Linked DNA regions of Homo sapiens: regions 2 and 3 are each linked to region 1. Evidence: fine-mapped expression QTL. A gene starts in region 1. Each other region holds a variant in brackets. All regions are shown on one strand. Distances are from middle to middle. Region 1 holds the start of S100Z (S100 calcium binding protein Z). Region 2 overlaps S100Z (S100 calcium binding protein Z). Region 3 overlaps S100Z (S100 calcium binding protein Z).

Region 1 (7,650 bases):
TGACCCTCAAAAGGTACGGCCTTGCGGGAAGTTGGTCCCATTTCTCTTTGTATTAGCTCTGAGAGGAAACCTAAGCTATTCTTCTAGGTGGGCTGCAGAAAACTTCTGTGCCGTGTGGAACATCCTTTGCTCTGATGAGTTTTCTATCATTCTTTTTTGGAGAACATGAGGGCATGGCAGCAGCCACTACAGCAGGAGCCTGGAGTCCCAGCTCTGGGCCCTAGCCAGCTCACCTGCATATGAGGGATTAACTCTCAACACTGCTGGATCTGGCTCAGGTCTGAGTTCCTCACCTCAGCTCCACCATGTAGCCTGGGGTGAATGGCAAACCCATGGAAAGCGTTTAATTATAGCTTCTATGTACCATCGGGTAGACTCAATTACCTAATCCCGAGAAAGCAGTTTTAGCCAAGCCTTATGTTGTGAACTCTTTCAGAGGCCACCTGGGCTCTTGCAGGGGAACTGTGTCTAGTTCTTACCAGTGGAAGTCAGACTTTTTTCTTTAACCAGAGATTTGTGTAAATGGGAGACTTTGTTAAAAATATAACAGATTTATCAGAATTTATGGCTTAAAAAATTGCAGCACAGGGAGGGAAATGATGGTGTTTATTCTAGTGACCATTTCTGTCCATTAAAACTGAAATTCTTTTTTTTTAATCTTTTTAAAAACTGTGTTTTTTTTTTTGAGACAGAATCTCGCTCTGTTGCCCAGGCTGGAGTGCAGTGGTATGATCTTGGTTCACTGCAGCCTCTGCCTCCTGAGTTCAAGTAATTCTCCTGCCTCAGCTTCCCTAGTAGCTGGGATTACAGGTTTCCGCTACCACACCTGGCTAATTTTTGTATTTTTAGTAGAGACGGGGTTTCACCATGTTGGCCAGGCTGGTCTTGAACTCCTGACCTCAAGTGATCCACCTACCTCGCTCTCCCAAAGTGCTGGCATTAGAGGCATAGGCCACGGTGCCCAGCCTAAAAACTTTATGTTTGTTTGTTTATTTTATTTTATTTATTTATGTATTTTTCTGAGAGAGAATCTTGCTCTGTCTCCCAGGCTGGAGTGCAGTGGTGCCATCTTGGCTCACTGCAACCTCGGCCTCCTGGGTTCAAGCGATTCTCCTGCCTTATCCTCCCAAGTAGCTGGGATTACAGGCGCCCACCACCACGCCTGGCTAATTTTTGTATTTTTGGTAAAGACTGGGTTTCACCATGTTGGCCAGGCTGCTCTAGAATTCCTGACCTCAAGTGATCCGCCCACCTCGGCCTCCCAAAGTGCTGGGATTACAGGTGTGAGCCACTGCGCCCAGCCCTAAAAACTTTATTATGGAGGATTTTATACCCATACAGAATTAGGATTGTATAGGGAAACTCTATGTCTCCATCACTCAGGCCCAATATCCATCAACCTTTGGTCAATTCTGCCCCATCCTCCTCCCCATCCCGTTTATTCTGAAGCAAATCTCAGGAATCATATTATTTCACTCGTAAATGTTTCAGTGTCTAAGACAAGAAATTTAAAAATCATACCTCAAAAAATTTCTTAATATCAGATATCCTGTCAGTGTTCAAATTTCTACTCATCTCAATTATCATAAGTGGTTTCTTTTTTTAAAAAATCAGAATCTAAATAAAGCTCAGACATTGCAATTGGTTGATGACTTTTAAATCTCTTAATTTATCTCCACCCTCACCACTTGCTACTTACTTGTTGAAGAAACCAGGTTGTTTGTAGATTTTCCCCATAGTCTGGATTTTGCTGATTGCATCCAGAACTGGAAAGTGTGAAAGCATATTAGAGGAAATGAAAAGGCTCTGCCGATCGAGAACTCTGGTTATACAACTGTTCACAAGCACTTAGCAGGAACAACGAGGAATGCTAAAATTCTTATCACTGTGCCCTCTTATGTGGTGCCTGCCTCATGGTGATCTTAATGTTCTCCTAAAGATAGGGAAGAACAGGACCCTAGACCACAGTCTTGTGCTTGGGAGCTACACTTGGACAGGAATCACCACCCAAAACTGGCAATGCAGACAGATTACATGTGTTTTCTTCCGCAGATTTGTTCTGATCTCCCCAGACATCCGTCATTCTATAATCCTACAGTTTGGACCTTCTTAGTTTTCACTTTCAGGTGGGAAAGACTAGTAATTAATTAATTAATTAATTAATGCTTTTATAGAGACAGGGTCTGGCTCTGTCACCTAGGCTGGAGAGTAGTGGTTGCAATCACAGCTCACTGCAGCCTCAAACTCCTGGGCTGAAGTGATACTCTCAACCCCAGCCTCCTGAGTAGCTGGAACCACAGGTGTGCACCACCATGCCCAGCTAATTTTTAAAAAAAAATTTGTAGAGATGGTGTCTCCCTATGTTGCCCAGGCTGTGTTGAACTCTTGGGCTCAAGTGATCCTCCCACCTCTGCCTCCCAAAGTGCTGGGATTACAGGCTTGAGGCACAGCACCCAGTCAAGAGGTTTTTGGGTTTTGTTTGTTTTTTGAGACGGAGTCTCACTCTTGCCCAGGCTGGAGTGCAGTGGAACAATCTTGGCTCACTGCAACCTCTGCCTCCCGGATTCAAACAATTCTCCTGCCTCAGCCTCCCGAGTAGCTGGGATTACAGGCGCACACCACCATACCTGGCCAAGAGTAGTTATTTTGGAAAGAGAGACGTTTCAATCTTCAGAACATATCTTTGGCCGGGTGCGGTGGCTGGTGCCTGTAATCCCAGCACTCTGGGAAGCCAGGCTGGGAGGATCACTTGAGCCCAGGAGTTCAAGACTAGACTGGGCAAGCAACATGGTGAAACCCCATCTCTACAAAAAAATACAAGTATTAGCCAGGTTGTGGTGGCATACCCTGCAGTCCTAGCTATTTGGGAGGCTGAAGTGGGAGGATCACTTGAGCCTGGGAGGTTGAGGTTGCAGAGAGCTGTGATTGTGTCTCTGTACTCTACCCTAGGCAATGGAGCAAGACTCTGTCTCCAAAAAAAAAAAAAAAAAATTTATCTTTGAATTCTTTCTTTCAATATATTGTTATCTGTATTTCTGTACTGAGTGCTGTGCTTCTTGACCTGTCTCTGCCCTTTTCTGTGTATTTATTTATTTAATTGACAAGTAAAAATTGTATATATTATGGTATACAAATACAGCTTGATGTTTTAATTTATGTATACATTGTGGAATTATTAAGTCAAGCTATTTGACTTAATTGCCCCATATACTTGTCATTTTTTGGGGGTGATAAAGACACTTAACATCTACTGTCTTAGCAATTTTCGATACACGATATATTGTTATTAACTATAGATAGCATGCTGTACAATGGGAGCTCTTAAACTTATTCCTCCTGGGCCAGGCGCAGTGTCTCACGCCTATAATCCCAGCACATTGGGAGGCCAAGGTGGGCGGATCACTTGAGGTCAGGAATTCAAGACCAGCCTCACCAACATGGTGAAACCCCATCTCTACTGAAAATACAAAAATTAGCCAGGCTTAGTGGTGGGCGCTTGTAATCTCAGCTACTTGGGAGGCTGAGGCAGAAGCTTGAACCAGGGAGGTGGAGGTTGCAGTGAGCTGAGATGATGCCACTGCACTCCAGCCTGGGTGACAGAGCAAGACTCTGTCTCAAAAAAAAAAAAGAAAAAAAGAAATGCTGTGAGGAATTATTAGCCATGAAGCTTCAGCAGGCAGGTTAGGTAGCTTTTCCAGTCACATACTGGTGAAGTAAGGATTTGAACCCCAAGACTCTGGTGCCAGAGTAATTGCTCTTCACCATGAGGAGGCACCAGTGGGGGAGTGTTGGATCACAAGCAGTTTCTTTTTCTTTTTTTTTTGTTTTTTTGAGACGGAATCTGGCTCTGTCACCTAGTCTGGAGGGCAGCGGCGAGCTCAGCTCACTACAACCTCTGCCTCTCAGGTTCAAGCGTTCTCCTGCTTCAGCCTCACGAGTAGCTGGAATTACAGGCGCCCGCCACCATGCCTGGCTAATTTTTATATTTTTAGTAGAGATGGGGTTTCGCCACGTTGACCAGGCTGGTCTCAAACTCCTGACCGCAAGTGATCCACCCACCTCAGCCTCTCAAAGTGCTGGGATTAGAGGCATGAGCCACTGCACCCAGCGCAATTTCGTTAGAGACTTGGTGCCTTCCCATTTCTTTTACTCAGCAATATACCAGCTTTAGGTCCTAAATTAAACCTCTTCCTGCTTTCCCACCTGATGAAGAAACGTGCCTGCAGTGTGGTGAGTCTGGACCACGCAGACTCAGAACAGCACTACTCACAGCAGGGCCTCTTGCTCGCTCTAGCTGCTGGGAGGAAAACGGCTTGCTAATCTCCACGCCCAGAAATTCAGACAAGAGCATTCTCCTTATCTCATCTGCACAGGAAGCAGGTCTAAGGTAAAAGATTATTTTTGTGGAAGATTCTTGCTTTTCAGTCTAGTGGTTGAAGTGTGAGCCTGGCAGGCGTTGGATTAGAGAGGGCAACAAGAGTGGAGGTTGTGAGGTGGGGGGTTGCCTTGGGGCTTCCACTCTAAAATGTGGCCTTACCTTGGCCACAAAGGGGTCGGGGGGGTGGGGGAGAGAGAGAGAGAGAGAGAGAGGGAGAGAGCAGCCTGATCATAGCTCGGAGCGTAGAGGTTCTGGTAAGTTCCTTGCCCTAAAGAACACTTAGTTCATTCTGGCTCCTTTCCTGGTGACCATCCTGGCTTCCTGCTTGGCCTTCACCTCACCTTGAGAAATTCAAGTTTCATGTTCTTGTCCAGGCCAAAGACCCAGAAGAACCTTCAAGGTGAGGCTTGGCCCCTTAGATCCACGCCGTGATTTCGCTTCTTTTTCCTGAAGCCTGCACAGATGCCAGTGTAAGCCCACTCCCAGGAAGTCACAGCAGTGGTCTATGCTCCTCCTCTTCACACTGGCCAGTGCTGGGCATGCCTGGACAATCAGCCCTGGAATGGCTGCTCTCAGCCTACAGAAGAAGAGAGGGAAGAGGGATGGAGGGGCTGGGGAGAAGTTGGTGAGAGGACACAAAATTTGGGTTAGACAGAGAAATAAAGTTTTTTTTGTTTTTTGTTTTTTTCTGAGATGGAGTTTCACTCTGTCACCCAGGCTGGAGTGCAGTGGTGTGATCTCAGCTCACTGCAACCTCCACCTCCCACTTGGCTTCCCAAAGTGCTGCGATTACAGGCATGAGCCACCGCTCCCCAGCCTCCTCATGGGATTTTTGAGGATGACATAAAGGAATACATTTAAACTGCCTAGAAGGGTGCTTGGCCCAGAGTATGTGCTAATTAACGTTGGCTACTATTATTTTCCTTCAACCCAGTGCCGGTGCAGGTCTAGAGGAAAGCATGAGGTGATACAGGGGCACCCAGAGGCGGAGTGCTCCCAGGAGCTGAGGGGCATCGGAGGCTTCCCTGGAGGACTGGCACCTGAGCAGAGGAATGGGCAGCACAGTGGCAGTGCCACGTGTGCGGCACAGATGGTGCAGAGGGGATGGGTGGGCACACTGCGGGGAGTTTAGATTTAGCCAGGGGATGGCAGGGCCTGTCCAGGAGGTTAAGTGAGGAGCTCAGGTGTGCCTCCCAGCAGGCAGGGGAGGCTAATTTTGAAGAAGAGCAAAGTAGGTGCAGGAGGTGAGTTGGGATCTCATGCAGTAATTCAGGCCAGAAGTGACAAGGGCCTGAACTATGGCGCTAGGGTTGAGGAGGAAGGAACAGAGAGTGAGGAGATACAACCTGGCAACTGATTGCATGAGAGAGAGAGAGGGGCCAGGAATAGCATCATACTCAGGTTTCTGGCCATGCAGTTGGGTGAATGAGGGTATTGCTGTTGACTGGAGCAGCAAAAAAAGGGGATCCCCTCTGGGGTAGAGGAAGAAGGGAGCAGGGGATTGGAAAATGCCAAAATCAGTTTGCTGTGGTTTGGAATCTGAGACTCTGATGTGTTACCTAAGTGGAGATGTCCTGTGGTCAGTTTATTTATACTCTCCTGGGTCCTAGGTAGGATTTAAGGTGACATATGAAGATAACACAAAGTAGAGTAAGATATTATAAATTAAGTAGGAGAGAAAGCAGACAGAAAAGAACGAGATGTAAAGTAGAGGAAGGAATGAGGTTAAATATAAAGTACACAGCAGAAAGCAGAAGTCACAAGCTGGCCAGCATTCGCTGAATTTCCTGTTTGAGTTGTCCTGCAGTCTTATGTTTGTCTGTTGGGTTTTGGTGGGTTTTGTTTGTTTGTCTTGAGTTGCAGTCTTAAAATCCAGGAATTCTTAAAAATTAAAATTTCTCACTTTTTCTTTTAAAAAAAAAAAAAGTGAAGTTCTGGGAGCTCTGAGCCATATCCCATCTGGCAACGATGATCTGGGTCTGAGAAGCAGTCTCGCCTTCTTGGGAGAGCACGGGCTCTCCAATTTCCCACTGGCCTCCACTCCACTTGGCTGTCTGGCACTGAAGCAGTGTCGGTCCTCTTATCAGCATGGACTATTTCTCTGAACTCACCCTTCTATCAAATGTAATAAAAAAAATTAGTCAAGATATTTTTTTTTTCTTAGTCTCAATTTTGCCTGTTTACACTAGCAGCCTGGCCGTGGAAGCAGGCTGATGCTCCCTGTTCACAACTGCTTTTCATTCTGCTTAGTGCCTCTGTTGTATCTGTTGTTAAATAGTTTGGGCTGGGTGTAATGGCTCACACCTGTAACCCCAGTACTTTGGGAAGCTGAGGTGGGTGGATTGCTTGAGGCCAAAGTTTGAGAATAGCCTGGCCAACATGGTGAAAACCCATCTCTACTAAAATACAAAAAAATAGCCAGGAATGGTGGTGCACACCTGTAATCCCAGCTACTCAGGAGGCTAAGGCACAAGAATTGCTTAAACCCAGGAGGCGGAGGTTGCAGTGAGCTGAGATCCCGCTACTGCACTGCACTCCAGCCTGGGTGACAGAGTGAGACTCTGTCTCAAAAAACAAACAAACAAACAAAAAACAGCAAAGTTTGAACATGACCCGGCTGTAGGTATTTGAGTTTGCAGCATGTGGTAAAATCAAGTATTCGGCCTAGGTGGCTCATGAACTTGATTCTAGGCTTTCTAGCAGCCAAAGAAAAAGAGGATACATTATCTGTCTTATCCTATCTTATCAGCTGGGCTATTCATAGTATCCATGGGATGACTGCTTAGGCAAGTCAGGACTCTTCTCAACACAAGAACCAGAGCAACATTTTTCCCCTGAGAGTCTTCATAGAGAGGGAATGAAAAGTTCAAACAACATTCATCCCAGAGTCGATTCAAGTCTAAGGCTGATGATTCTAGCAGCTTCAAGCAGCATTTCCCTTGAAGCACAGCTGCTTAAACAATTCTAGGAGGGGCCAATGTGATACAGTTCAGACACCTAATTTTCTACTGATCTGGCTATATTAATTTCAGAAACTTTAGAAAAATCTAGAGAAATGCCTGGACTCCCTCCAAATAATCCTCCATAGATGGTCTGAGGATGTGATGCCTGGAATTGCAGCAGTCATCTTGTGACTGTGCGGGGACAAGTCAGAGATGAGAGCTGGCACACAGAAGATAGGGAAGAAGAAAGATAGATCTTGGGCCCTTGATAGCATTGACAAAACACTGAAACAACCAACTTTTATAGTAAGAGATAGCAAATTACCTTAT
Region 2 (7,650 bases), 75 kb after region 1:
AAAGCTGCTTGAGCCCTTCCCATGCTCATAAATTAGGTAAGGAGCAGTGAGGAAGTGTCTACAGCAACCTCAGCCAATGTGATGTGCCTCTACAGCTGTATGAAGTAGATTCTCTGATTTTATCTTGAAATCCACAACTTCCACAAAAAAGAAAAATCTTTTACCATTTCTCATTAAAAAAGTAATATAAGTTTATTGTAGGGGGAAATAATCAAATGTAATCTCATTACCCAGATATAATCACTGTTAACTTCTTCATTCGAATTTTCCCTAGGTCCATGTATCTATATATCTATGGTTCATAAAAATGAGATTACACCAAAAAATATCTTTTGTTATCTATATAGTTCCAGCTTAATAAATATACAACTGTATTATTATTTTTGTCTGAATAGTATTTTCATTGATATATCACAATATATTTACTCCAATTCCCTATTGCATATAGATTATTTCTAATTTTTCTATTAATAATACTAAGGGAGCTTTTAAGTCAATACATCTGAATCTTGAATAAAATTCTTGTTCCTTCTCTTTGGATGGGTATTCAGACTCTTAATTTTACAAATGAAGAAATAAAGTCCCAGAAGGTAACAGAGATAGAACTAGGCACGATTTTCTATTCTTCTTTCCTTCCTTTCTTTGTGAGAGTTAACGATTATTTAAAAGTATTCATAATTTTCTGATAATAAAAGTAAGACATGGCATTATGACACTGGATATTCAAAAACCACGATGTCCTTTTACTTGAAGATTTTAAAAGGAAATGATTACAATAAATACCCAGAGTCAACAATTATCAAGTTTCTGTCATATTTGCTTCATCTATCTCTTTCCTTTGAAAGCGAATCCTAGGCCGGGTGCAGTGGCTAACGCCTGTAATCCTAGCACTTTGGGAGGTCGAGGTGGGCGGATCACTTGAGGTCAGGAGTTAGAAACCAGCTTGGCCATCATGGTGAAACCCCAACTCTACTAAAAATACAAAAAATTAGCTGGGCATGGCGGTGCACGCCTGTATTCCCAGCTACTTGGGAGGCTGAGGCGGGAGAATTGTTTGAACTCAGGAGGCAGAGGTTGCAGTGAGCTGAGATCATGCCACCGCACTCCAGCCTGGGCAACAGAGTGAGAGACTGTCTCAAAAAAAAAAAAAAAGAAAAAAGAAAGCAAATCCTAGGTACCATTTCATTTTATCCCTACATGTTCAGATATGCTGTTAGGGCTCAAAAGTGATACCCCAAAGACTGTGCTTTGACATGCTGAGAGGCCTTAGAAGCTGCCTCAGAATCAAGGTTCCCCTAACCTTGTCTTGTCTCCACCCCCTCCCAAGCATAGGGAGAGACTCTCTCTGGAATTTCCTTGTCTAACCAAGAAAGCTTTTTTCCAAAAGAAATGCAATTTTTCTTAGGATCCCCTCCCTAGGGGGTCTCAGCAAATAACCAGGAAAGATCACTCACCAGAGAAGAGAAGATGTTGGAAGTCATCACCATGCCCAGACAGACTTTTCTTCTATTCTTCTGAAGGAAGCTTCAAGAGATTACCTGGGAAACTTAATCTGCAAAATAAGATGACCTTTGTTCCTGTGCAGTTCTGCCCATCACCTTCCCATAATGTCTCCCTCCCACCTCCCAGGTTCATACATCTCTTCCCATAAAGAGAGTTTTTTTGTTGTTGTTTGTTTGTTTGTTTGTTTTTGAGATAGAGTCTTGCTCCGTTGCCCAAGCTGAAGTGCAGTGGCACGATCGGCTGACTGCAAGCTCCGCCTCCTGGGTTCATGCCATTCTCCTGCCTCAGCCTCCCGAGTAGCTGGGACTACAGGCACCCGCTACCACGCCCGGCTAATTTTTTGTATTTTTAGTAGAGATGGGGTTTCACCGTGTCAGCCAGGATGGTCTTGATCTCCTGACCTCGTGATCTGCCCGCCTCGGCCTCCCAAAGTGCTGGGATTACTGGCATGAGCCACCATGCCTAGCCAAAGAGAGTATTTAAGCAACCATCTAGCCCCTCTTAGAATTCACATTTTGTATGAATCCCATGCACATATATGCATCTTAATAAAATTTGTATGCCTTTTTTCCCAATAATCTGCCTTTTGTCAGCTGAGTTTTAGCAAGCCTTCAGAAGACAAAGGGGAAGTTTTCCCTTTGCCCCTACAATGCCTATGTAAAAAAAAAAAAAATGGGCTTCTAAAAAAACACAATACCATATCACACCTAATAATTTAATAATTCCGTGACATCATCTAATATGCAGTTCAAAATGAAATTTCCATGACTATCTCAAAACATCTCTTTTTACATTGGGTTTGTTTGAATCAGGAACAAAACAAGGCCCACAGATTACATTTGGTTCTTAAGGCTCCTAAATCTATATCAATCCTCAGCAGTCTTTTGTAATTTCCCCCCATGCCTATGTTGTAGAAACCAGGTAGCCCTGTGGAAAGCTTCATATTCTGGATTTGCCCATTTATTCCCATGTTATTTAATTGTTTCCTCTATCACCTATATCTCCATCAGTGAAGGTAGCTCTAGAGCCTGGATTAGAGTCAAGTTGGACTCCTGTTAAGAGTATTTCACAGGTGGTGCTGTGCAGTCAGTATTGCATTAGGAGCTATCTAATGCCTAGTTGCCCACTTTTAGAGTATAGTGGGCCCAGTGCTATGCCACCCCAATGGGGGAGGGCAGGCTAGAGGGGTGGGAGGGCAATACCAAGACAAATGCAAGATACCCTCCCACCCACGATGGTTCCTCTTCCACCTCCAACTACACCCTCATGGGTGTAGAATCAGATTTTGCTTTGAGATGGGAGAGGTTTCCTCATTCAGCCCAATCCACAACACCACCATAGCTCCATCATGGGCAAACCGTTTTTATAGACTTGCTAATTAATGTCTGTGGACCGGCAGCATTAGCATAGCCTGCACCTGAAAGCTTGTTGGAAATGCAGAAACTCTTACCCTATAATTACCAAATTAAAAATTGGATTTGTTGGGGCTCAAAGAAATGACACTCCAAAATATGGCACTTTGACATGCTGAACTAGAGAAGCAGCCACAAGGCCTCTCTGCCCTCCTTCCCCACCCCCCAATTCTCTGTGTCTCCCAAAGCATAGGATGAGGCTGTTCTCCGAAGATCCCTGATCTATCTAGAAACTGGGTCCACCAAAGAGAAACACAATTGCCTTTGATCCTCTCCCCTAAAATATCGCTAAGCAGAAAAGATTAAAACTCATATCTCAGAGGAAGAGATGATAATTAAACACCACACTTGGAGCCCAGACACTGTTCTCTGGTCCTGTTTGATTCCCAAAGAGAATTATTTGCTAGCCATGAACTGAACATTGGGCCCATTCATTACCCCTAAAAATCATTTACTATATAAATTGCCACATTTCCCTGCTCTTTCCTCCCCTGTGAAGAAAAGTATATAAGCATCTAGACCTCACTGGGTTTTTAGGTAATCATCCTCCTGGGATTCCCTTGTGCTTATGTGTGTTAAATAAATGTATATGCCTTTTTCTCCTATTAATCTTCCTATTCATTCTCTGTTCACTTTCAGCAAAGCTTCAGAGGGTGAAGAAGAGCTTTCCCTTGGCTCCTACACGTTCTAACAAGATTCTCCCTGTGATTAGCATGCCCTTTAAAATTTGAGAACCCCTGGTCCTCAGGACCCCGGAGAAGTTAGGTCTGGATTAGAGGAATAAGGGCAGTAGTATTAGTTCCCTGCTTCTGTATAACAAATTACCCTAAAACTTAATAGCTTAACAAAGATACATTTATGGGCCGGGTGTGGTGGCTCAAGCCTGTAATGTCAGCACTTTGGGAGGCAAGGGCAGGCGGATCACTTGAGCCCAGGAGTTTGAGACCAGCTTGGCCAACATGGTGAAACCCCATCTCTACTAAAAATACAAAAATTAGCCGGGCATGGTGGCAGGCACCTGTAATCCCAGCTACCACTCTGGAGGCTGAGGTAGGAGAATCGCTTGAACGCGGGAGGTGGAGATTGCGGTGAGCCAAGATGGCGCCACGGCACTCCAGCCTGGGCAACAGAGCGAGACTCTGTCTCAAAAAAAAAAAAAAGATACATTTATGATCTCACATATTTTCAGAGTCAGAAAGCAGGAGTGGCTTGGCTGGTGAGTTCTGGCTCATGGGACTCTTACAAGGTTGCTGTTGGGTTGTCGAGCTATTGGCCAGAGGAACCACTTCCAAGCTTA[C/T]TCATGTTGTTGGCAGAATGCTTCAGTTTCTTGCCACAAGGTCCGATCCCTAGGACTGCTTATGATATGAGGGTCCCCAAAGATGAGTGGCTAGATAGAGAGAGAGAGAGGAAGGGAGAGAGAAGTCACAGTGTTTTTTTAATAGCCTAATCTCAGAAGTGACATGCCATCACTTCTAACACGTTCTATTGGTCGTACACACTAACCTAGCACTCTATGGGAGGGGAGTATGCGGGGGTGTGAACGCCAAGAGGCAGGGATGCTTGGGGACCATTTCATAGGCTCACTACCACTGCAGTAACCATAACCGGGGCTTCGCCTTGTGAAGAGGATGGGAAACTTCCTCCTGGAAACAGAGTAGGTCTCACACTCAGTCCTCTACTCCAGGAGAAACAGGGTTCACCTGCCTGGCTCTTATCTCTCTGTCCTCCTGAGTCTATAGACTCTCATTTCTGTTGCAATTGCATGATTTGTTCTAACGCTCTCAATTCCCACAAGCACTTTTTTTTTTTAAAGTTACAGATTTTCGCTTGAGTAACTTCTTTAGATAATCTATGCTGCTTGCTATAGGAAGAACTTAGTGGCTGACAGTAAGAAATCACTTAATATAAACGTATGTAAAGCCAGGCGTGGTGGCTCATGCCTGTGATCCCAACACTTTAAGAGGCTGAGGGGGGCGGATCACTTGAGGTGAGGAGTTTAGGACTACCCTGGCTAACATGGTGAAACCCCATCTCTACTAAAAATACAAATTTTAGCAGGGTGTGGTGGCGTGCACCTGTAGTCCCACCTACTCAGGAGGCTGAGGCAGGAGAATTGCTTGAACCCAGGAGGTGCAGGTGGCAGTGAGCCAAGATTGTGTCAATGCATTCCAGCCTGGGTGACAGAGTGAGACTCCATCTTAAGAAACAAAATAAAACAAAGATACATAAAAATATAAGGGCACATAGTTTCAAAGGTTGGTAAACAAGTCATTCAGTGTGTGTCATTGTGGCATCTGGGCTACAAAGGACAGCTGGGAGGTAAAATTACTGGGCAGAGCAGAGGATGGTTTAGATACAGGATAGTGGAGAAGCTTGTTTTTTTTTCTGAGGAATGATGATTAGAATTCACCCAGGAGTATACTCTGGCCTAACTGCAGATATTAAGGCGATAGAATTGTCCAATCTGGTGAGTGATGAACTTAGAGTTGGTGATTAGTAGCCGTGAGGGTTGGGGCAGTGTGATGCTGTAGTCCTACCTGCCAAATGGAGCTGATAATACTCCAGGAAGATGTACTTTTATGTTTGTTTCACCAATAAGGAAATACAAAAACAAGTTCAGTTTTCCACAACATTCAGGTAATGGGCTTTGAGGAAAAAAAAGATGAAAGTGGCAGTTCAGTGTGGGAGCTGGGAGGGCTGTGGAAGTGGGTGGGGCTAAAACAGAGCCCTCCCTGGACTGGCTGCTCCTCAGGATCTGCTGTGAAATTTGCAAGAAAGTCCTATAGAGCCTGGTTAGGAGCTGTGGAACAGGGGAGGGAGCTCCAGAGAAAACGAAGCATAAAGCTTAAGGCCCAGACCTGAGAGAAAGGCTAAATGCCCAAGACAGGAAAAGAACCAAGCAGGTTTTAGAACAACAGAAAGATGAGAAAGCAAAGAGGGGATCTGGAGAAAGAACAGGCTCGTGAAGCCCAGATTAAAATTCTCTTCTCAGGAATTGACAGTTTCCAGCTTGCGGCAGTAGAATCAGCTTTGCAAAATAGAAAGGAAAAGATTCCCCCTGAAGAGTTGCAAACCATCTGATTCATGATTTATTGCCTTAGAAACGTCTGTATAAACACAAGGATTAGGTATTGTCTCCCCCAGCTTCCTGTCTTCAATTTCCTTCTTTTTCATCTGGATGTTTTGTTATGAACTCTTTATCTCTTAAGACAATGTCTTTAACATTCAATGGTTAGGGCAATTCCCAATTCAGTCTGTGATTCTTTCGCCTGTGCATGATTGTAAGATGTTCCTGCTACTTCCTTCTTACGCTAATAGTAGTAACATAAGACATCAAAACTCAAAGCAAAGACACTGACCCACAAAAAGTGAAGCGTGGAAATAATTGTTGTTCAGGGAGGCCCTAAAACAAGTCAGGTTTGAATACCTCAGGTCCTTTCTGTGCTCTGGGGGAGAGGGATTCTAAAGCCCAATTGCCTCACACTGACCTATGCTTTGATGCCCTCAGCATCTGGCCCTACCTCTCCACCTTCAACTCATACCATGTTCCCCCAAGCTCCAGTCCACTGGCCCCTTTTTGAGGTTCCAGGTGTCAGTGGAAGATGCCAAGTTGTGCTCTCCCTCTGCCCCAGATCCTCACATAGCTGGTCCTTCATCTTTCTCACCTCCATTCAGATGTTCCAAGTCTCAAAATATCAAGCTGACCCATTTTCTTGGCATTTAAATCCCTTCCTGGTAACTGATTAGGCTTCCACCACTACTCAGCCACAACCGGTCTGGGTTGCAAAAATCAGTCACCTCAATGGCTGGGAGAAGTTAAAGACCCTTCCAATAGTGGCTTAGGCCCCTGAGGAAAGCTGTCAGGAAATTTTAAAAGAAAACTCAAAGGGCATTTTGATGAAAGAAGAAATAAGGAATTAAATTTCAGCTTATGAACAACAGTTGTAGAAAGAGGAGAGTTAGGAAGGTGAAGACTAACATTCATTTAGGTCCAGCCTCATTCCCATGTTTTACCCATGTTATGACATGGAAACTTCTCAACAAGCCTACAGGGAAAGGTTAGTATCCTCATTTCGTAGATAAGGAAACCAAGGCTCTGGTTGAGCAAATTTCCCAGGATCCTGCAGCAAATACATGGAAAAGCCAGGTTCAAGCTGAAGCCCAGCTGACTCTAAGCCCATCTGTGTGTGTGCTGTTCCCTGTCCACAGGCCTAGACTCTGCTCTGAGGACGTGGGGGTTTGGGTGGGGCATGTGCTGGCATTACACAGGTATTGAAAGACACATGGGCAAGAATACTTCCCATGCCCTCACCATCTATATGGATTTCACGTATCCTTTAGGAGCACCCGAGTCAGTACTGCCTCCTTTGTTTTGAAACAAAGGGTCTAGTTCACTGTCATTTTTACACAATGGAGACCTTTATAAATTACAGCTTTTTGGTCCTCCACTTGCAAGGGAAACAAGGACCATAACAGGGCCATCAATAATCTCCCCAACGCAGAGGACCTGAACATATAAGCTGCAAAAAGATGTCTGAAATTTTATAATTTGTTTGCTTCCTGAATAATCTTTTACTTGGTAGAATCAATTGTAAGTGCCACTGTGCTTGTGGCTTCACAGACATTTTGAAAATTAGATAATGCACCTTTAGGATGGGAGTGAGAAGCCTTTGTCCCTCATGGCATATTTTATATAATAAAAAAGGCTTGTATGGAGCAGGGGTGAGCTGGGAAG
Region 3 (7,650 bases), 66 kb after region 1:
CAACCCCTATAGCCTGCTCTCCCAAACACCAGAGGAAGCAGAATGGTTCACTGTTCTGGACCTCAAGGATGCCTTCTTCTGTATTCCCCTGCACTCTGACTCCCAGTTTCTCTTTGCCTTTGAGGATCCCACAGACCACACATCTCAACTTATGTGGACCGTCTTGCCCCAAGGGTTTAGGGATAGCCCTCACCTGTTTGGTCAGGCACTGGTCCAAGATCTAGGCCATTTCTCAAGTCCAGGCACTCTGGTCCTTCAGTATGTGGATAATTTACTTTTGGCTACCAGTTCTGAAGCCTCATGCCAGCAGACTACTCTAGATCTCTTGAACTTTCTAGCTAATCAAGGGTACAAGGTGCCTAGATCGAAGGCCCAGCTTTGCCTATAGCAGGTCAAATATCTAGGCCTGATCTTAGCCAGAGGTACCAGGGCCCTCAGCAAGGAACAAATACAGCCTATACTGGCTTATCCTCACCCTAAGACATTAAAACAGTTGCGGGGGTTCCTTGGAATCACCGGCTTTTGCTGACTATGGATCCCTGGATACAGAGGGATAGCCAGGCCCCTGTATACTTCTCTTTATACATCACAGAGAGTGCAGGGCTAGCTCTTGGAGTCCTTACTCAGACTCGTGGGACAACCCCACAACCAGTGGCATACCTAAGTAAGGAAATTGATGTAGTAGCAAAAGGCTGGCCTCACTGTTTAAGGGTAGTTGCGGCGTTGGCTTAGTGTCAGAGGCTATCAAAATAATACAAGGAAAGGATCTCACTGTTTGGACTACTCATGATGTAAATGGCATACTAGGTGCCAAAGGAAGTTTATGGGTATCAGACATCCGCCTACTTAGATACCAGGTGCTACTCCTTGAGGGACCGGTGCTTCAAATACATATGTGCATGGCCTCAACCCTGCCACTTTTCTCCCAGAGGATGGGGACCCAATCGAGGATGATCACCAACAAATTATAGTCCAGACTTATGCCACCCGAGATGATCTCTTAGAAGTCCCCTTAGCTAATCCTGACCTTAACCTATATACCAATGGAAGTTCATTTGTGGAGAGTGGGATATGAAGGGCAGGTTATGTCATAGTTAATGATGTAACCGTACTTGAAAGTAAGCCTCTTCCCCCAGGGACAAGGGCCCAGTTAGCAGAACTAGTGGTGCTTACCTGAGCCTTAGAACTGGGAAAGAGGAAAAAAAAATAAATGTGTATACGGATAGCAAATGTGCTTATCTAATCCTACATGCCCATGCTGTAATATGGGAAGAAAGAGAGTTACCTCTGGGGGGAACCCCCATAAAATACGACAAGGAAATCATGGAGTGATTGCACTCAGTGCAAATACTCAAGGAGGTGGCAGTCTTACACTGCCAAAGCCATCAAAAAGGGGAAGGAGAAGGGAGAACAGCAGCATAAGTGGCTGGCAGAGGCAAGGAAAGACCAGCAGAAAGAAAAGAGAGAAAGAGACAGAAAGAGAGAGAGAGAGGAAGAGACAGACACAAAGAAGGAGTCAGAGAGAGAGAGAGAGAGGAGAAGAGACAGAGACAAATAGGGAGTCAGAGAGACAGAGAGAGTCAGAGAGAGGAAGAGACAGACAAAAAGGGAGTCAGAAGGAGACAAAGAAGAAGTCAAAGAGAAGAAAGAGAGATGGAAGTAGTAAAGAAAAAACGTATACCCTATTCCTTTAAAAGCCAAGGTAACTTTAGAACCTATAATTGATAATTGAAGGTCTTCTCTGTAACCCTATAACACTCCAATACCACCTTGTTGTCAGTGTAAACAAGGGCGTAGCCTGAAAGCACTGAGGCCACTGACAACCCATAGCCTTCCTATCAAAAATCCTTAACCCAGCAGGTTTCCTAACAGGGGATCTAAATCTTAACTAATTACCATACAAAGGTCCGATCAGACCAAGGAGGAACTCCCTTCAGGACAGGAAGATAGATGTTTCCTCCCAGGCGATTAAGGGAAAAAGACACAATGGATATTCAGTAAGTGATAAAGAAACTCTTGTAAAATCAGAGTTAGGAAAATTGCCTAATGATATGTCTGCTCAAACCTGCGAGCTGTTTGCACTCAGACAAACAGAATCAGGAAGGAGCCATCTTATAGAATCAGGAAGGAATTATCTATACCAATTCTAAGTTAATATGGACTGAACAAGGTTTTATTAACAGCAAAGAAAAAATCCCAAACTTACAAGATTTTCAACTAAAGTTTGCTAAAAGTTAACAGTGTAACATGTATTATCCTACTACCACACACTCTCAAAGGATTTCTCAGACAGTTTGCAAGAGATAACAAAATCTATCCTTACTCTACAATCCCAAATAGACTCTTCGGCGGCAGTGACTCTCCAAAACCGCAGAGGCGTAGACCTCCTCACTGCTGAGAAAGGAGATCTCTGCACCGTCTTAGGGGAAGAGTGCTGTTTTTATACTAACCAGTTAGGGATAGTACGAGATGCTGCCCGGCATTTACAGGAAAAGGCTTCTGAAATCAGACAACACCTTTCAAGCTCTTATACCAACTTCTGGAGTTGGGCAACATGGCTTCTCCCCTTTCTAGGTCCCATGGCAGCCATCTTGCTGTTACTCACCTTTGGGCCCTATATTTTTAACCTTTTTGTCAAATTTGTTTCCTCTGGAATCAAGGCCATCAAGCCACAGATGGTCTTACAAGTGGAACACCAAATGAGTTCAACCAACAACTTCTACCGAGGACCCCTGGACTGACCTGCTGGCCCTTCCACTGGCCTAAAGAGTTCCCCTCTGGAGGACATTACAACTGCAGGGCTCCTTCTTTGCCCTTATCCAGCAGGAAGTAGCTAAAGCGGTCATCGGCCAAATTCCCAACAGCAGTTGGGGCATCCTGTTTAGAGGGGGGATTGAGAGGTGAAGCCGGCTGGGCTTCTGGGCTGGGTG[G/T]GGACTTGGAGAATTTTCTGTCTAGCTAAAGGATTGTAAATGCACCAATCAGAGCTCTGTGTCTAGCTAAAAGGTTTGTAAACACACCAATCAGCACTCTGTAAAATGGACCAATCAGCTCTCTGTAAAATGGACCAATCAGCAGGATGTGGGTGGGGCCAAATAAGGGAATAAAAGCTGGCCACCCAAGTCAGCAGTGGCAACCCGCTCAGGTCCCCTTCCATGCTGTGGAAGCTTTGTTCTTTCACTCTTCGCAATAAATCTTGCTGCTGCTCACTCTTTGGGTCCGCACTAACTTCATGAGTTGTCACACTTACCGTGAAGGTCTGCAGCTTCACTCCTGAAGCCACTGAGACCATGGACCCACCAGGAGGAAAAAGCAACTCCAGACGTGCCACCTTTAAGAGCTGTAACACTCACCGCGAAGGTCTGCAGCTTCACTCCTGAAGCCAGCGAGACCACAAACCCACTGGAAGGAACAAACAACTCCTGACGCACCACCTTTAAGAGCTGTAACCCTCACAGTGAAGGTCTGAAGCTTCACTCCTGAAGTCAGCGAGACCACGAACCCACCAGAAGGAAGAAACTCCGGATACATCTGAACATCTGAAGGAACAAACTCCGGACCATCTTTAAGAACTGTAACACTCACCGCAAGGGTCTGTGGCTTTGTTCTTGAAGTCAGCAAGACCAAGAATCCACTGGAAGGAATCAATTCCGGACACATAAGGCCGGGCACGGTGGCTCACGCCTGCAATCCCAGCACTTTGGGAGGTCGAGGCAGGTGGATCACGAGGTTAGGAGATCAAGACCATCCTGGCTAACACAGTGAAACCCCGTCTCTACTGAAAATACAAAAACATTAGCCGAGCATGGTGGCAGTCACCTGTAGTCCCAGCTACTCGGGAGGCTGAGGCAGGAGAATGCGTAAACCTGGGAGGCGGAGCTTGCAGTGAGCTGAGATTGTGCCACTGTACTCCAGCCTGGGTGACAGAGTGAGACTCCATCTCAAAAAAAAAAAAAAAAATGCTGGGCGTGATGGCTCACACCTGTAATCCCAGCACTTTGGGAGGCCGAGGCGGGCAGACCACCAGGTCAGGAGATCAAGACCATCCTGGCCAACATGGTGAAACCCCCTCTCCACTAAAAAAAATACAAAAAAAATTAGCCAGGCATGGGGGTGAGCGTCTGTAGTCCTGGCTACTCCGGAGGCTAAGGCAGGAGAATGGCGTGAACCCGGGAGGTGGAGCTTGCAATGAGCCGAGATCACACCACTGCACTCCAGCCTGGGCAACAGAGCGAGACTCCGTCTCAAAGAAAATAAATAAATAAAAAATAAAAATAAATAAATAAATAAAAAAGATAAAGTGGTAGGCTTAAGCCCAAACATATCAATAGTTACATTAAATGTAAATGGTTTAACTATAAAAATTAAAATACAGTAACTAGCATAATGGATTAAAAACATGCCCTAATTATATGTTCTCTACAAGAAACTCACATCAAATACAATAACGTATGTTGAAAGTAAAAGGACAAAAAATTACACAAGCATTAATTTAAAATGTTATGTTAACATTAGATAAGTGGACTTCAGAGCAAACAAAATTACCTAACCCTAGCACTTTCGGAGGCCAAGGCAGGCAGATCATGAGGTTAGGATCAAGACCAGTCAGGCCAACATGGTGAAACCTCGTCTCTACTAAAAATACAAAAATTAGCTGGGCGTGGAGGTACACACTTGTAATCCCAGCTACCTGGGAGGCTGAGGCAGGAGAATCGCTTGAACCCAGGAGGTGGAGGTTGCAGTGAGCCGAGATTGTGCCACTGCACTCCAGCCTGGGAGACAGAGTGAGACTCCATCTCAAAAAAAAAAAAAAAAAAATTACCAGAGATGGTGAAGTACATTACTAATAATAAAAGTATAAATCTACCACAAAGGCATAGCAATCCTAATTATATATGTACCAAATAACAGAACTACAAAATATGTAAAGCAAAAACTGATAGTATTGAAAAGAGAAACAGACAAATCCACAATTACAATTGAAGACTGCAACATCCTTCTCTCAACAATTGATAGAAAAGCTAGACAGAAAATCAGCAAGGACATAGAAGAAATAACATGACCATCAATTAACAGGATTGAACTGACTTTTGTGAAACACTCAACAACAGGCCACACATTATTTTCATGTGCCCACAGTACATATACCAAGACAGACCATGTCCTAGGCCAAAAAAAAAAAAAAAAACCTTGAAAAATTAATACCCATTGAAATCCTAAGAGTGTGTTTTCTGACTACAGTGGAAACAAACTAGAAACCAATAACAGAAAGATAACATGAAAATTTTTAAACACTTGCAAACTAAACACACTTGTAAATAATACTTGGGTCAAAAAGAGGGTCTTAAGGAAAATTAAAAACACATTCAACTAAATAAAAATGTAAAGACGATATATCAAAATTTGTAAGATACTGCTAAAGAAGTCTTGAGAGGCAAAGTTATAGCATGAAATCCCTGCATTAGAAAAGAGGATATTTCAAGGCTGGGAGCAGTGGCTCACATCTTTAATCCCAATACTTTGTGAGGCCAAGGCAGGTGGATCATGTGAGGTTAGGAGTTCGAGACCAGCCTGGCCAACATAGTTAAACCCCATCTCTACTAAAAATACAAAAAGGAGCTGGATATGGTGGCAGGTGACTGCAGTCCCAGCTACTTGGGAGGCTGAGGCAGGAGAATGGCTTGAACCCAGGAGGCGGAGGTTGCAGTGAGCTGAGATTGCACCACTGCCCTCCAGCCTAGGTGACAGAGTGAGACTGTCTCAAAAAAAAAAAAAAAAAAAAAGGATATTTCAAAAAGTTGTATGAAAAGAAGAAAAAAGGAAGGTCTCAAGTCTGTATTTCTCATAACTACATGTGAATCTATAATTGTTTCAAAATAAGTTTATAATTATGTATTAACATACATATTTCAATCATTTAATAGAGCTTCAAAACATAAAATGTGAGATTTCCAGTTTGACTTTTTTGTAGCATGCTTCCATATACTATTCATAGATAGTCACAATAATTCTGAATGACAGGCCTTGTTGGTATTACTGACATTGCTAGGCTGCCTAGGTGTGAGGTGGTACTTACACAGTTTCATGATCACACACAAGTTTAAGAATGTCAGAAAAGAGACTGAAGTAGCCATTCAGCTATATGGTTTTCCAGAGGGAAAGCTTGGGTCAAAAATCAGAAATTGGCCTGGCACAGTGGTTCACACCTCTAATCCCAGCACTTTTGGGAAGTGGTTGGATCACTTGAGGCCAGGGGTTCGAGACCAGCCTGGCCAACATGGCGAAACCCCATCTCTATTGAAAACACAAAAATTAGCTGGATGTAGTGGCACATGCCTGTAATCCCAGCTACAAGGGAGGCTGAGGCACAAGAATCACTTGAACCCAGAAAGTGGAGGTTGCAGTAAACCGAGATAACACCACTGTACTCCAGCCTGGGTGACCGAGCAAGACTGTCTCAAAAAAAAAAAAAAAAATCAGAAATTGAATACCAAGGTCAAAATTGGTATTGAACCTCAATGCCCAATATTTTTATGTCAAAGTGCCAGTTTCCTGTAGGTGGACGTCTAGTTGGTTTCTTGCTTTTTGCTCTTACAAATAGTTCTACAATGACAATCTTTAAATATATATCTGTGTAGTCTTTAGGGTATCTATCTGTAGGTTAATTCCTACAATTGGACTTGTGGTCAAAGGTATACGTATTTAAAATTTTGATTGATAACGTCAATTTTCTATCTAAAAACCTTATACCAATTTGTACCTCCATACCTCTATGCACGTGTTGTTTTTCCACACATTTACTAACATTAGATATTATCCAACTTTATTTTTTGTCGTTAGAATAGGGTTTTTACTTTGTTTTTGAGACAGAATCTGGCTCTGTCACCCAGGCTTGAGTGCAGTGGTACAATCTCAGCTCGCTGCAACTTCTGCCTCCCGGGCTCAAGTGATCCTCCCACCTCAGCCTTCTGAGTAGCTGAGACTACAGGTGCGTGCCACTATGCCTGGCTAACATTTGCATTATTTGTAGAGACAGGGTTTTGCCATGTTGTTCATGCTGGTCTCAAACTCCTGAGCTCAAGCAGTCCTCCCGTCTTGGCCTCCCAAAGTGCTGGGATTACAGGAGTGAGCTACTGTGCCCAGTAGAATAAGGGTTTTAATTTGCTTTTGAAAAAATAGACTTTAGAGTAGTTTTAGGTTCATGTAAAGTTTAGTGGATACACAGAGTGCTCCCATGTTATACCTGCCTCCAGATGTGCACCGACTTCCCCATTATCAACATCTCCCACCACAGTGGTATATTTGTTACAATAGAACCTACGTTGACACATCATTATTACCCAGTGTCTGTAGTTTACACTAGGTTTCATTCTTAGTGTTGTACATTCTATGGGTTTTGACAAATGCATAGTGACACGTATCCACTGTTACAGTATGATACACAATACCTTCACTGCCCTAAAAATCCTCTGTACTCTATCTATTCAACATTCCCTCCCACTTGTCCCTGGCAATCACCAATCCCTTTACTCTTTCCATTGTTTTGTCTTTTTCATAATGTCATATAATTGGAGTTATATGGTACCTAGCCTTTTCAGATTGCCTTCTCTCACTTAATACACATTTAAGTTTTCTTCGTGGCTTTTCATGGCT

The links. PIP is the estimated chance that this variant, and not a neighbour inherited with it, causes the effect.
Region 2: its variant is fine-mapped to the expression of S100Z in whole blood (TOPMed, PIP above 0.99).
Region 3: its variant is fine-mapped to the expression of S100Z in whole blood (TOPMed, PIP 0.90).

The regions. Positions count from the first base shown.
Region 1 is chr5:76,845,769-76,853,418 of GRCh38, forward strand. It overlaps S100Z (S100 calcium binding protein Z), which reads left to right and starts at 4,246. Exons shown (of 5, transcript NM_130772.4): 1 at 4,246-4,387.
Region 2 is chr5:76,920,852-76,928,501 of GRCh38, forward strand. It overlaps S100Z (S100 calcium binding protein Z), which reads left to right. Exons shown (of 5, transcript NM_130772.4): 5 at 1-799. Among named protein-coding and RNA genes, the nearest start is that of CRHBP, 28 kb to the right of the region's middle. RefSeq lists a silencer at 4,824-4,997. The variant C/T (reference allele first, on the strand shown) is at 4,213.
Region 3 is chr5:76,911,365-76,919,014 of GRCh38, forward strand. The region is part of intron 4 of S100Z (S100 calcium binding protein Z); the gene reads left to right. Among named protein-coding and RNA genes, the nearest start is that of CRHBP, 38 kb to the right of the region's middle. The variant G/T (reference allele first, on the strand shown) is at 2,931.